Homo sapiens: one gene and its partners. The protein of the gene in region 1 interacts with the protein of each later gene in a biochemical or structural test. Each region holds a gene or a part of one and is shown on either strand. Other genes may lie near its edges.

Region 1 (3,647 bases):
AAAAAGAGCTATATTTGAGCTGCTGTTTGTTAAAAGAAAAGTTTTCTGCCGGGGACTCGCTTTACCCTGTCTACCTAAATTCTTTCTGCCTTCTATAACAATTGTATGCTCAGTAAATACATAAGGAATAATGAACTTAATAACATTTTTTTCCATTCTCAAAATGATACTTAAATGACTCAGTACAACAAAGAAACTGAGTAGTAACCAGTGCAAAACTAGCAAAAGGATGAAATACACAAGAAAATGAGAGAATTTAAGAGGAGTAGCAAAACAGCACTGCTAAAGTTACGGGTTTATTTTAAAGTTTAAAATAGAAGTAAACAAGCAAACATACTGATAATGGTTAGGCTTTCTGTCCCCACCGCACAAATCTCATCTTGAATTATAATCTCAACATGTTAAGGGAGAGACCAGATGAAAGTAATTGGATCATGGGGTTGGTTTCTCCCATGCTGTTCTCGTGATAGTTCCCATGAGATCTGATGGTTTTATAAGTATTTGGTAGTTCCTCCTGCATTCATTCTTCCTGCTGCCCTGTGAAGAGGTGCCTTCCACCATGATTGTGAGTTTCTGGAGGCTTCTGCAGCCTTGCGGAACTGTGAGTCAATCCTTTTTATTATAAATTACCCCGTCTCAGGCAGTTCTTTATAGCAGTGTGGGGATGGACTAATACTCGCTGGGTTAGCTGGGGTAGGTAAAGCCACAGCTGTGGCAGCAACCAGCTAGTGGGTGTCCCTTGATGGAGGCTTTGCAGGCTGCAGCAGAAGGGACCCTTCAGATAAACCTCCAGTCAGGAAAGGAAAAGGCCCAAATAAACAGTATTTAGATTTTTTTTTAAAGGACATAACTACCAATAGAGATTTAAAATAATCATAAGAATACCATTAACTTTATGATAAAAATTTTGTAAGTGGAGAAGAAATGGATATATTTCTAGGAAAACAGTAGAAGATCCATCTAAGATTTTGACAATTTAAATCAACCACTAAGGAAGTGGAATCAGTAATCACAAGTCCACCTCGCCAAAAGACAATTTTTGAAAGATGAATGTTACCAAAACATCAAGAAACTGATAATTCCTGTCTTATAGAAACTTTGAAATGAGAGAAAGCTACCCAACCCATTTCAGAAAGTTAGTAAAATCTCAAAGCTACACTTGAGCAAAGACTGTGAAATATTAATAGACCAATCTTGTTTATGAACATAGATGGAAAAATTGCTGATGAAATATTGGCACATTGAATGTAGCAGTGCATAAAATATTGTATCATGAGCAAAAGGAGAATCTTTCCCAGGAACAGGAGGATGTTTTAATAAAAATATGTAATTTACCTCTCTACAGATTAAAGGAGAAAAACTATATGATCACATCAACAGAAACAGGAAATTCAGTTTCTTTGGGGGATAGTTGTAATTAAAAGTGCTTAACTCACTTATATAAGCCATTAGTGGATGTTACAATAAACCTCGTATAGTGTCAGATGTAAGACAGACATACTGGAATTGTCTATGAGGTTGGATCCATGGGCCTGCCATGGAAAATTTGTTGAGTAATACGTCCAAGGCGTCACCATTTGCCAGGCGTTGCAAGTATCACCATTTGCAAGGTGTTAACAAAAAGTTACCTGCCTATGGATTCTCCTTTCTAACTCTGACCTAATATTTTGGAGCATAGAGGAAAGAAACATCTTATGTTTCTGTGTTTGGGTAAACATTAGACTTATAAAAGGGCCTAGGGTTTTTTTGTTTGGTAAACCATTGCCTTTCCTGCTTTGGTGTGGCAAATCTTCCTTTGGAGAAAAAGGTCCCTTTAATCTTAAAACCAACTCTCAGTGACCAACAAAAGCAACAAATAGGAACAACCACCCATTAAGAACCATCAGGTGATGCCTCATTTGCTGTGGTGCACAGCTGAACTTGATTGTTACTCTTGGATCAGGGTTGGCTTGATAAGGACTCACTTAACCAATGGAAAGTAAGGTTAAATCTTTGTAAGCAATGCTCCTGATGCGAATCACCTGGAGATCTTGAGCAAATGCAGACTGGTTCAGCAGATCTGGAGTGGGGCCTGAGATTCTGCATTTCTAACAAGTTTCCTGGTGATATTAATGCTGCTGGTCTGTGAGCCATACTTTGAGTAGCAAAGGACTAAAGGTTGTGAGATAAACTGCTTTTAGCAGCCCAAAGGGCCAGCTGGAAAGACGAGACCAGTTACAGAGCAAATGGCAAGACAGATCTGGTAATCTGATTCTTAGAGTACTTAAAAAAGATAAGAAGGATCTATTCCTGATATACAGGGTACTTGGTGGATGTGTCCATGACCTCGAGATCGAAAACCCATTAGTTAATCTTTGTGACATCTGAATTTTAAGGATCTTACCCAGTGAACATATAACTAGTGGAAATCCTGATAATTGGCTAATGCAAGGAAGTGATACCCATGTGTAATGCTTATCTTTGTATCCATTTCATGGGGAAGGTCATGGAAGACGACAGCAAACTTGAGTGGTTAATGAGAGCTTCACTAATGTTGTCTGCTGCAGGCAATAAGTGAAGTCTCTGGCAGTGGGAAGCATGGACCCAAGACCGAAAGCTCTGGCACTTTATAGCAGTGGTGGGGGGTAGATAGGACTTAGTGTGGCCCCTTAAAGAGCAAGGTCCAAGTGATTTTCTCTGGTGAATGTCGATGTGGATCTAGTCTCCAGGGTTAGATCCAGGCAGGTAACATCAAAGTCAGTTGATAAGACCTCTTATGCCTGTGAATGGAAGGCCCTGATAAAACTTCATTATTAATGTTCTGCATTAATTTAGCGGATGACTATAGTCATTTCACATAATCTAATACATGAATGTCCTGTATGGGTGACTGCTGAGGGTTTAACAAAGGAGAGTCCATTTATATTTGGCTGGTAAGATCGATGCTTCTGTCACTACTGATGGGCAAGGATATTAACATCAATATCTAAAAAAATTCTGAGATTTGGATTGTGATGTGTTAAATTTCTAGACCAATTTGAGGAGAATTTAACAATAGCTTTTCAATTTATGAACATGGCGTATATCTTTTTTGGCGGGGGGTGAGGACAGAGTCTTGCTCTGAGATTACCCAGGCTGGAGTTTAGTAGCATGATCTTGGCTCACTGCAACCTCTGCCTCCTGAGTTGAAGCAATTCTCCTGCCTCAGCCTCCCCAGTAGCTGGGATTACAGGCGAGCGCCATCATGCCTGACTAATTTTCGTATTTTTAGCAGAGACAGGGTGTCGCCACCTCAAGGGATCCACCTGCCTTGGCCTCCCAAAGTGCTGGGATTTATAAGCGTGAGTCACCGTACCTGGCCAGACATAGCATATATCTTCCTTTACATAGATTGCCTTTGATTTCTTTCATTGTTACTTTGTAGTTTTCAGCTTACAGATTCCGCGCATATTTTGTTAGACTTAAATCTAAGTATTTGCTTTTTTTTTAACTTACAAATTTTTTTAAAAAAACGTTTTTCCTCTCCAATGTTCATTGCTAATACATTTCACGTTTGAATCTCCAGTTCAGAAAAATCATGGCCTCTGGAGTTTTACTGAGGACTAGAGATAGCTAAGTAACATAGTTCCACCTTATTCACTTGGTCTTTGATGTGGTGTCCATAATTG
Region 2 (3,647 bases), on another chromosome or scaffold:
CTGCAGCTCCCAAGGGCCCCTGCCTGCCCCTGGACATTATTGCTTTTCTGCCCCCATAGGGGGACAGCGGGTGGGGGATTGGACCGCCCCGTGCCTGGCCACTCCGAGCCTAGGCCACGGGGCCTGGAAGGCAGCACCACTGTCTGCCGGGTGTCGCGTCCCACCAGAAGGCAGCCTTCGTCCAGATGCAGCAGCGCGGAGGCAGACACCAGCACGACACCCAGGCCAGAAACTCAGGCAGGCCCCAGGCGCCATGCTTCACCCCTCACTGGGGCTTGTGTGGATTAAAACCTGAATCTCCAACCGCCCAACAGCCCAGGCCTGGGCGGGAGGTGGAGTCTTCCAAATGCGAGTCTGGGCACAAAGGTGAGGCTGGAGGCTGGAGGCAGGGGCTGCAGGGGCCGCTGGGGTGCGTCTGGGAGGGGCCTGAAGAAGAACTGGAAAGGGGGTGAGGAGGTGGGGGTGGGGACACAAACCAAAAAGGCTAAGTAAAAAGTTAGGGGGAAAAAACCACCCAGCGGTGATGGCAGCGAGCGTGCGTCCTCTGCGTGGGCAGACTGCTCACTCGCGGATGCTGGCCGAGTAGGAGAACTGGGGGAAGTGGGTCCGCTGGTCCAGCTCCAGTAAGCCCAGGCTGTCATCTGTGGGCGGCAGAGGTGGATGGGGAGGACCAGTCAGGAGAGGGCCTGGGACACCTGCCCAGACTCCCTGGGGAAACGGCCCCAGCTGGCGGGGGCTGCCCACAGGACAGGACAGGAAAGGCCCATCCCTCCGCAATGGAGGCCCTCAGCCACGGACCCACTCCCCAAACCTGAGCCCCGGGCGGCCTCCTCTGGGAGTTTCCTGTGCCCTTGCCCATGCGCCCCACAGCTGGCAGGGCCTTCTGAGCCTCCCACCTTCTCTCTGCCCCACACACCACCATGCCAGAGTCCAGCCCAGAGCCCTGTCCTGGCCTGCCTCTCGCACCCTCCCATCCATTCTCCACGGGCAGCCAGGGGGGCTTTCTAAAGGCCTGCTTTAACCCTGTCCCTCTCTGTATGAAACCCTTCCATGGCTGGCTCCCGCCATGCAAGCAGTCCCCACCCCTCCCAGTGGCCCCCAGACCCTTGCACTCCAGCCCCATGCCCTCTCTTCTCACCACCATCTCCCTGGCTGCTGCCGGTCCTTAGCTATGCCATGCTTCTCCCATTGCTGGCATCCCACACGTCATTCCTCCGGCCAGCTGACACGTTTGCTTCCTCCTCTAGAAAGCCCTCCCTAACTGCAGGCCAGGTCGGATATTTCCTCTGGGATTCCCCAGTCCCTGGCCTCCCACGCCCTAGCCCTGACCACTCCAGGCCGCCCACCCTACCTGGGCTGGGAGCTTTCCAGGGCAGGGCCCAGGGCTGGCTCAATCAGTGCTGTGTCCCCAGCATAGCCCAGCCCTGGGCTGAGTTCAGAGTAAGAACCCAAACAGCTGTAAAGCAGTGAACCCAGCCAGGCTCAGGGACCGGGCTGCCTCCTGCCCTGAGCCCCCCGACTGAGCTCCAGAACGTGCTGCAGTCAATGGCTCCTGGTGGCCTCACCAGGTCCAAAGAGGACCAACAGCAAAAGGGCCTGAGAGCAGACTTGGGGAAATCTCCCAGACATGAAGCGGGGGCCTTCGAGGGCCCTCCTTGAGAAGTGAGTTAAGAGCAGATCCCATCCCTCCACCCCTGGGGCAGGCACACCAGCGCGGGGGCCCCAGGCACTCACAGCGGTCAGGGGGTGTGATTGTGATGGACTGGGCGGTAAATTCATCATCGAAGTACCTTGTGTCGACCTCGGACGTGACCTGAGGTTTGAAGGGTGGCAGGAGCTACGGAGGAGAGGAGCTCAGGCTCAGGGACCCTGAGGCCAGGAGGCCTCAACCAAGGTCACCACGAGTGGGCCAGGTCCCTGAGGGTCCTGCTGGGGCAAGCAGTGGGGCTCACCTTCTTCTGGACCACGTCCTGCCAGTTGATGCTGAGGAAGAACCTGTGCTCCATGACCTCCTTGGCATCGCTGGGCCCCCCACCAAGCCTGTGCAGAGACGGCCGTCAGCACCTGCCTCCCGGAGCAGCTGGGTTCGGGCAGACGGGCTTTCGGAGCAGGCAGGCCCTGTATGGCCCTTAATGATTCTGTCTTGACCACAAACCACTTCACAGAGGAGGAAACCGAGGCTCAGGGAGGGAGCTCACGTGCCCAGGGTCAGAGCCAGGGAGTCAGCAACCCGGACCCACGTGTCCTCACTGCCTGGCCTTACCCTGAGTCCAGAAAGGGAGTTAGTAGGGCAGGCTCCGTTCCTATCCTGGCTCTGCCACATATGGTTTGGTGGCCCCAGCCAGGCCCAGGGGATGCCCTGTTCCTCAGTGTCCCCATAAAATAAGGCAGTGTCAAGGATGGGCCTGCCCTGGGGGAAGCACTCCCTAAGTGCCACTGTGGACGTTTTCAGGGGCTGTGTGGGGACGACACACTGCGACCCTACAAGCGAGCACCCTTGTGGACGCTGCCCCCTCCAGGCCGCAGGGACAGTGGCAGCAGCTGGCGCTGGGCTGGGTGGGGCCGACGCCAGCCCTCACCTCTGCTTGGGGTCCTTCTTAAGCAGCCCAGCAAGCAGGGACTTGGCCTCGGGGCTGAGCGTGCGCGGGAAGCGGATCTCTTCCATGAGGATGAGCTCGAAGAGGCGCTCGTGGTCCTGGTTGTAGAAGGGCAGGCGGCCGCACATCATCTCGTACATGACCACACCCAGCCCCCACCAGTCCACGGCCCGGCCATAGTCATTGTCCTCCAGCACCTGAGGATGGAGGAGAAATGAGGGCTGGGCCCGTGGCCCTGAGGCTGGCATCACAGTCCTGCCCTCAGGGCATCTGGGCTGGAAACACACAGGTCTGGGGGATCCCCCTACCCTTGGCCTCACACGTTCCTACCCCCACCAACCCCAGACACCTCAGGCGCCAGGTACTCCGGGGTCCCACAGAAGGTTTTCATGGTGGCCCCGTCACTGATGCCCTCTTTGCAGAGGCCAAAGTCAGTGATCTTGATGTGGCCATCTTTGTCCAGCATGAGGTTTTCCAGCTGTTGGAAAAGTCAACGGATCTCAGGTGCATGCTCCCAAGGCTTCCTGCCACCCCAGCCTTTCCTTCCAGGGAAAGATGCCCGGGGCTCCTGGACATCAACCCTCCCATGCCAGGCTGGGCCCAGCACACACAGCCTCACCCTCTGAGGCTCAGAGAGAGGCCAGATCCAACCCTCCTCACCCTCTGGCCCACCCCCATGGTACCTGGGAACAGCTGGGCAGGGAGAGCCGAGAGCCAGGCCCTGTCCACCCACCGTCCCCATTGTGAACTGTGGTTCTTATTTCGAACGTGGGGGCACTAGCTTTCTTCTATTCTTTTTTTCTAGACTTTCTGTCCTTTAATTATGAAATATGCAGCCAGGCAAAGTGGCTCACACCTGTAATCCCAGCAATTTGGGGGACTTAGGTGGCAGGATTGCTTGAACCCATGAGTTTGAGACCAGCCTGGGCAACACAGCGAGACCCCATCTCCATATTTCTTAATATGAAAAAAAAAATTAGCCAGGCATGGTGGCACACACCTATAGTCCCAGCTACTTGCGAGGCTGAGGTGGCATCTCCCCCTGGAAGG
Region 3 (3,647 bases), on another chromosome or scaffold:
GTCATTGGCCACTGTCTCCACTCACAACCCCTGCTCCAGTCCTGGAGGGAGTGGGTTAAACACAAATAGAACATTCCATTTGAAGCAGTGATTCTTTTTTTTTTTTTTTTTTTTTAATCAAATGCTTTGGACTTTTGAAGTCCACTTGTTCTGTACTTGTAAAAGGGAAAGAAGGCCGGGCGCAGTGGCTCACGCCTGTAATCCCAGCACTTTAGATCACTTGAGGTCAGGAGTTTGAGACCAGCCCGGCCAACATGGTGAAACCCCATCTCTACTAAAAATACAAAAATTAGCTGTGCATAGTGGTTGGCACCTGTAGTCCCAGCTACTCAGGAGGCTGAGGCAAGCTAACTGCTTGAACCCAGAAGGCAGAGGTTGCAGTGAGCTGAGATCACGCCACTGCACTCCAGCCTGGGTGACAGAGTGAGTGAGACTCTGCGTTAAAAAAAAAAAAAAAAAAAAAAACTAAAAGGGAAAGGTAATAAATCTCACTTAACATCTCCCTTCGCTCCCTGGGCCTGCCTGAAAGTTACACGGGAGCAACGTGCGTGGCCACATCTCAGCTTTGCCCAACTGACTGGTGTGTCGTTGGTTTGTTCCAGCATTCGGGGATTAATAGCTCGGATGCGGAGGTGCTGACCCTGTTCAATGTGACAGAGGCCCAGAGCGGGGAGTATGTGTGTAAGGTTTCCAATTATATTGGTGAAGCTAACCAGTCTGCGTGGCTCACTGTCACCAGACCTGTGGCAAAAGGTAATGGGGAGATGGATGGGACCCTGTGCTGGGGATTTGATGTAGGCCCCAAGCTGCTGGGGCAGGCGGGGAAGCCAGTACTGGACTGTCCTTGCCACCCTACTGTATTTCTAGTGCCCAGAGCCATGGAAAAATACCCGGCCTGGGAGGCTGGTTTGGTTTGGTATTGTGTTGGTGTCTGTGGGTTCCCTCTCTGCCTTCTGTGTGTTCCTTGGCTTTGTGTGGATCCATGTGAGGACTCACGGGGACACGGTTTTGCTGTGTTACAAATGGTACTTCAGACTGAAGTTGTGAGTGAGTGGTGATTAAGAGAAGGGGCCATAGGCCAGGCACAGTGGCTCACGCCTGTCATCCCAGCACTTTGGGAGGCTGAGGTGGGAGGATCGCTTGAAGCCAGGAGTTTGAGACCAGCCTGGGCAACATAGCAAGACCCCATCTCTACAAATTAAATAAATTAGCCAAGTATGGTGGCGTGTGCCTGTAGTCCCAGCTAGTCTGAAGGCTGAGGCAGGAGGATTGCCTGAGCTTAGGTCGAGGCTGCAGTGAGCTATGTTTATGCCACTGCACCCCAGCCTGGGTTGACAGAATGGTACCCCATCTCTTAAAAAAGAGAGAGAAGGGGTTAGGCATTCCCTTGCATACTCGCATCTGCTGGCTGTGTATGCACATGTGCGTGTGTGTATGCGTGTGCATGTGTGTGTCTGCAGCCCCCGCCATCCCTCCTGTGTTCACCTTCTGGCTATCTTTACCTGAAACCAAACAGCCCCTGCCCGCCGGCCCCATTTCTCCATGCCGCTCACCGCCCGCATGCTCGGATGGGCCAGTGGCTGCCAGCATCTGGTGAAGGGTCGTAACCAGCCATCGTCTTCTCAGGTCTGCCGGAGTTCTTCCCTCAGGGTCTCACCCTCTTCCTCTAACAGGTTTTGCTGCCTGGTGGTTTTCGTTTGTTCCTTGTTGCAAAGAAGATGTCAGGGAGCATTTCTTCCTCTAGTCCCCCTTCTTTCTGTCTCCTTCCCTTGCTCTGCGTCTCTTAGAGGTCTCATGTCCTGTGCTTGTCCATTTTGCTTCCGTTGTCTCTTCTAGACTGCTGGAGTTAATACCACCGACAAAGAGATGGAGGTGCTTCACTTAAGAAATGTCTCCTTTGAGGACGCAGGGGAGTATACGTGCTTGGCGGGTAACTCTATCGGACTCTCCCATCACTCTGCATGGTTGACCGTTCTGGAAGGTACACACTGTAACTTCTCCTCTCGATGTCCTGCCCTCGCCACGGGCACGGGGGGAGCATGCATTTCCAGGCTTGGGGAGACACAGAGGCAGGAGAGCTGGAAGAATGGGCTCCTGCCTGCCTGGTGCCACATCCTGCCCCAGCTTTGAGGGCTGAATCCTCTCAGCTCAGAGAAGAGCTTCCCTAGTTTTGCAGGCGCACGGAGGCCTCCCACCCGTACACCTGCCTCTGCTCTCCCCCTGGCCATTGCAATGCATGCCCGGGATCTGGGTTTACCCTGCAGCCCGACTCCTCCAGGGCAGGCTCCTTCCGTCCTTGGGTCCAGCAGCCTCCCCCCTCCGCTGGGTACTGAGCATCTGAAAAGTCTCAGATAGGGCCCTACACCTCTTCTCCCTTCTCAAGTGCTCAGCCCAGGGGTGGGGCTTGCTGCTTGCAAAGAGCAGCCCACCCTCCTGTACTGCCATCCTATTGCCTTTGAAGAAGGAGGTCAGCCTGGACAGGTGAACTGAGTTGCCTTCAGAAAGGCCTGTCTCAGGCAGCCGCAGCAGGCTTCACGATGTCCATGTATCCTGTTTGCCTGCTGCCGTCTCTCCTCTCCCAAGAGGGGAGGTCTGCGTGTTGAGCCAGGGAGGAAGGAGCCTGCAGCCTGCTCAGGGTGGTGGCTGGTGACTGCGGGGCCAGGGCTTGCTGCTGTCTCTCGGAATGTCCTGCATGTGGGTCTGGCTGTTCCTGCTGGCACTGCCCTCTTCTCTCTCCCCTCCTTTCCCACTCTGCCCTGCTTGCCCGTCAGGGTCTCCGGATGCCCCTGCTGGAGGCAGAGAAGCGTTCTGTTTTTATCATCGTCCCTGTCTTGGTCCTGTCCGTGCTCCCCATGTGCTCCCAATCAGTTGTCTTCGTTCCTCAACATCAGGGAAAGAAAAAACAGCAACACTTCTCCCTGTCATCAGCTCTGCTGTCTCCTTGTCAGGCCTTGGGACGTTCTCTGGGCTCAGTCTAGGGTCGTGCCTCATGCCTCATGCCTCTCTGGGAAGGTTCCCAGGGGCGCCGCCTCCATGGTTGGCTGGTGGGTTTTAAAGGGGAAGGTTGGGAGGAGGCCTGTGGAAGGAGGAGGGCCGTCCACACCCGTGGGGCAAAGCGTGTTCCATGAAACCAGTGCTGTGCGTGCTGGGATGAAAGCCTCCCAGCCTCTCGTGCTGAAGGGAAAGGTGGACCGAACTGGCTTAGCTGCTGTGGCAATGGGGTGGGGGGTGAGTCCTAATCAGAAGGTGGGAGAAGAGAATAACAAAATGGAACTCCGCCCCCTGCCGCCACATTTCCTTAAGTTTTAGGAGTTGGGGCCTATGAGTAGAATTTGAAAGAACTACCAAAAAAGCTTATTTTTGGAAATTAAGTCAGCTTTGCCTGTGGTTTGGCTAGGAATAAATATTTACCTGTGTGCCCCTACAGAGATGACACAGACCCAAAGTGGGACATTGAGCAAGGCACAGGCTGGTTCCCCTCCTGTCCTCTGTCCTCATTCTGTGAGTGCCACCATCACCAGGTACTGTGGCCTGCAGAAATAAACGAGGCACCAACCCTGCCCTCAGGGACCCCGTGTCTTCTTAGGGACAGAGGACTCAGAAACATCTGTGTCCCCGCATGTTAAGTGCATGCACACAGTGCTGAG

What was found.
Region 2: of the proteins of PDK1 (region 1) and AKT2, one has a biochemical effect on the other in vitro, tested with the Homo sapiens proteins (one study listed by IntAct).
Region 3: the proteins of PDK1 (region 1) and FGFR1 form a complex in vitro, tested with the Homo sapiens proteins (one study listed by BioGRID).

What each region holds. Positions count from the first base shown.
Region 1 is NC_000002.12:172,601,014-172,604,660, forward strand, and holds part of PDK1 ([Pyruvate dehydrogenase (acetyl-transferring)] kinase isozyme 1, mitochondrial isoform 2 precursor), read left to right. Parts: 3' UTR 1-3,647. UniProt on the Homo sapiens protein: Kinase that plays a key role in regulation of glucose and fatty acid metabolism and homeostasis via phosphorylation of the pyruvate dehydrogenase subunits PDHA1 and PDHA2.
Region 2 is NC_000019.10:40,233,311-40,236,957, forward strand, and holds part of AKT2 (RAC-beta serine/threonine-protein kinase), read right to left. Parts: intron 3,076-3,647; coding exon 2,947-3,075; intron 2,795-2,946; coding exon 2,580-2,794; intron 2,041-2,579; coding exon 1,953-2,040; intron 1,838-1,952; coding exon 1,735-1,837; intron 642-1,734; coding exon 562-641; 3' UTR 1-561. UniProt on the Homo sapiens protein: Serine/threonine kinase closely related to AKT1 and AKT3. All 3 enzymes, AKT1, AKT2 and AKT3, are collectively known as AKT kinase.
Region 3 is NC_000008.11:38,420,131-38,423,777, reverse strand, and holds part of FGFR1 (fibroblast growth factor receptor 1 isoform 1 precursor), read left to right. Parts: intron 1-1,836; coding exon 1,837-1,981; intron 1,982-3,647. UniProt on the Homo sapiens protein: Tyrosine-protein kinase that acts as a cell-surface receptor for fibroblast growth factors and plays an essential role in the regulation of embryonic development, cell proliferation, differentiation and migration.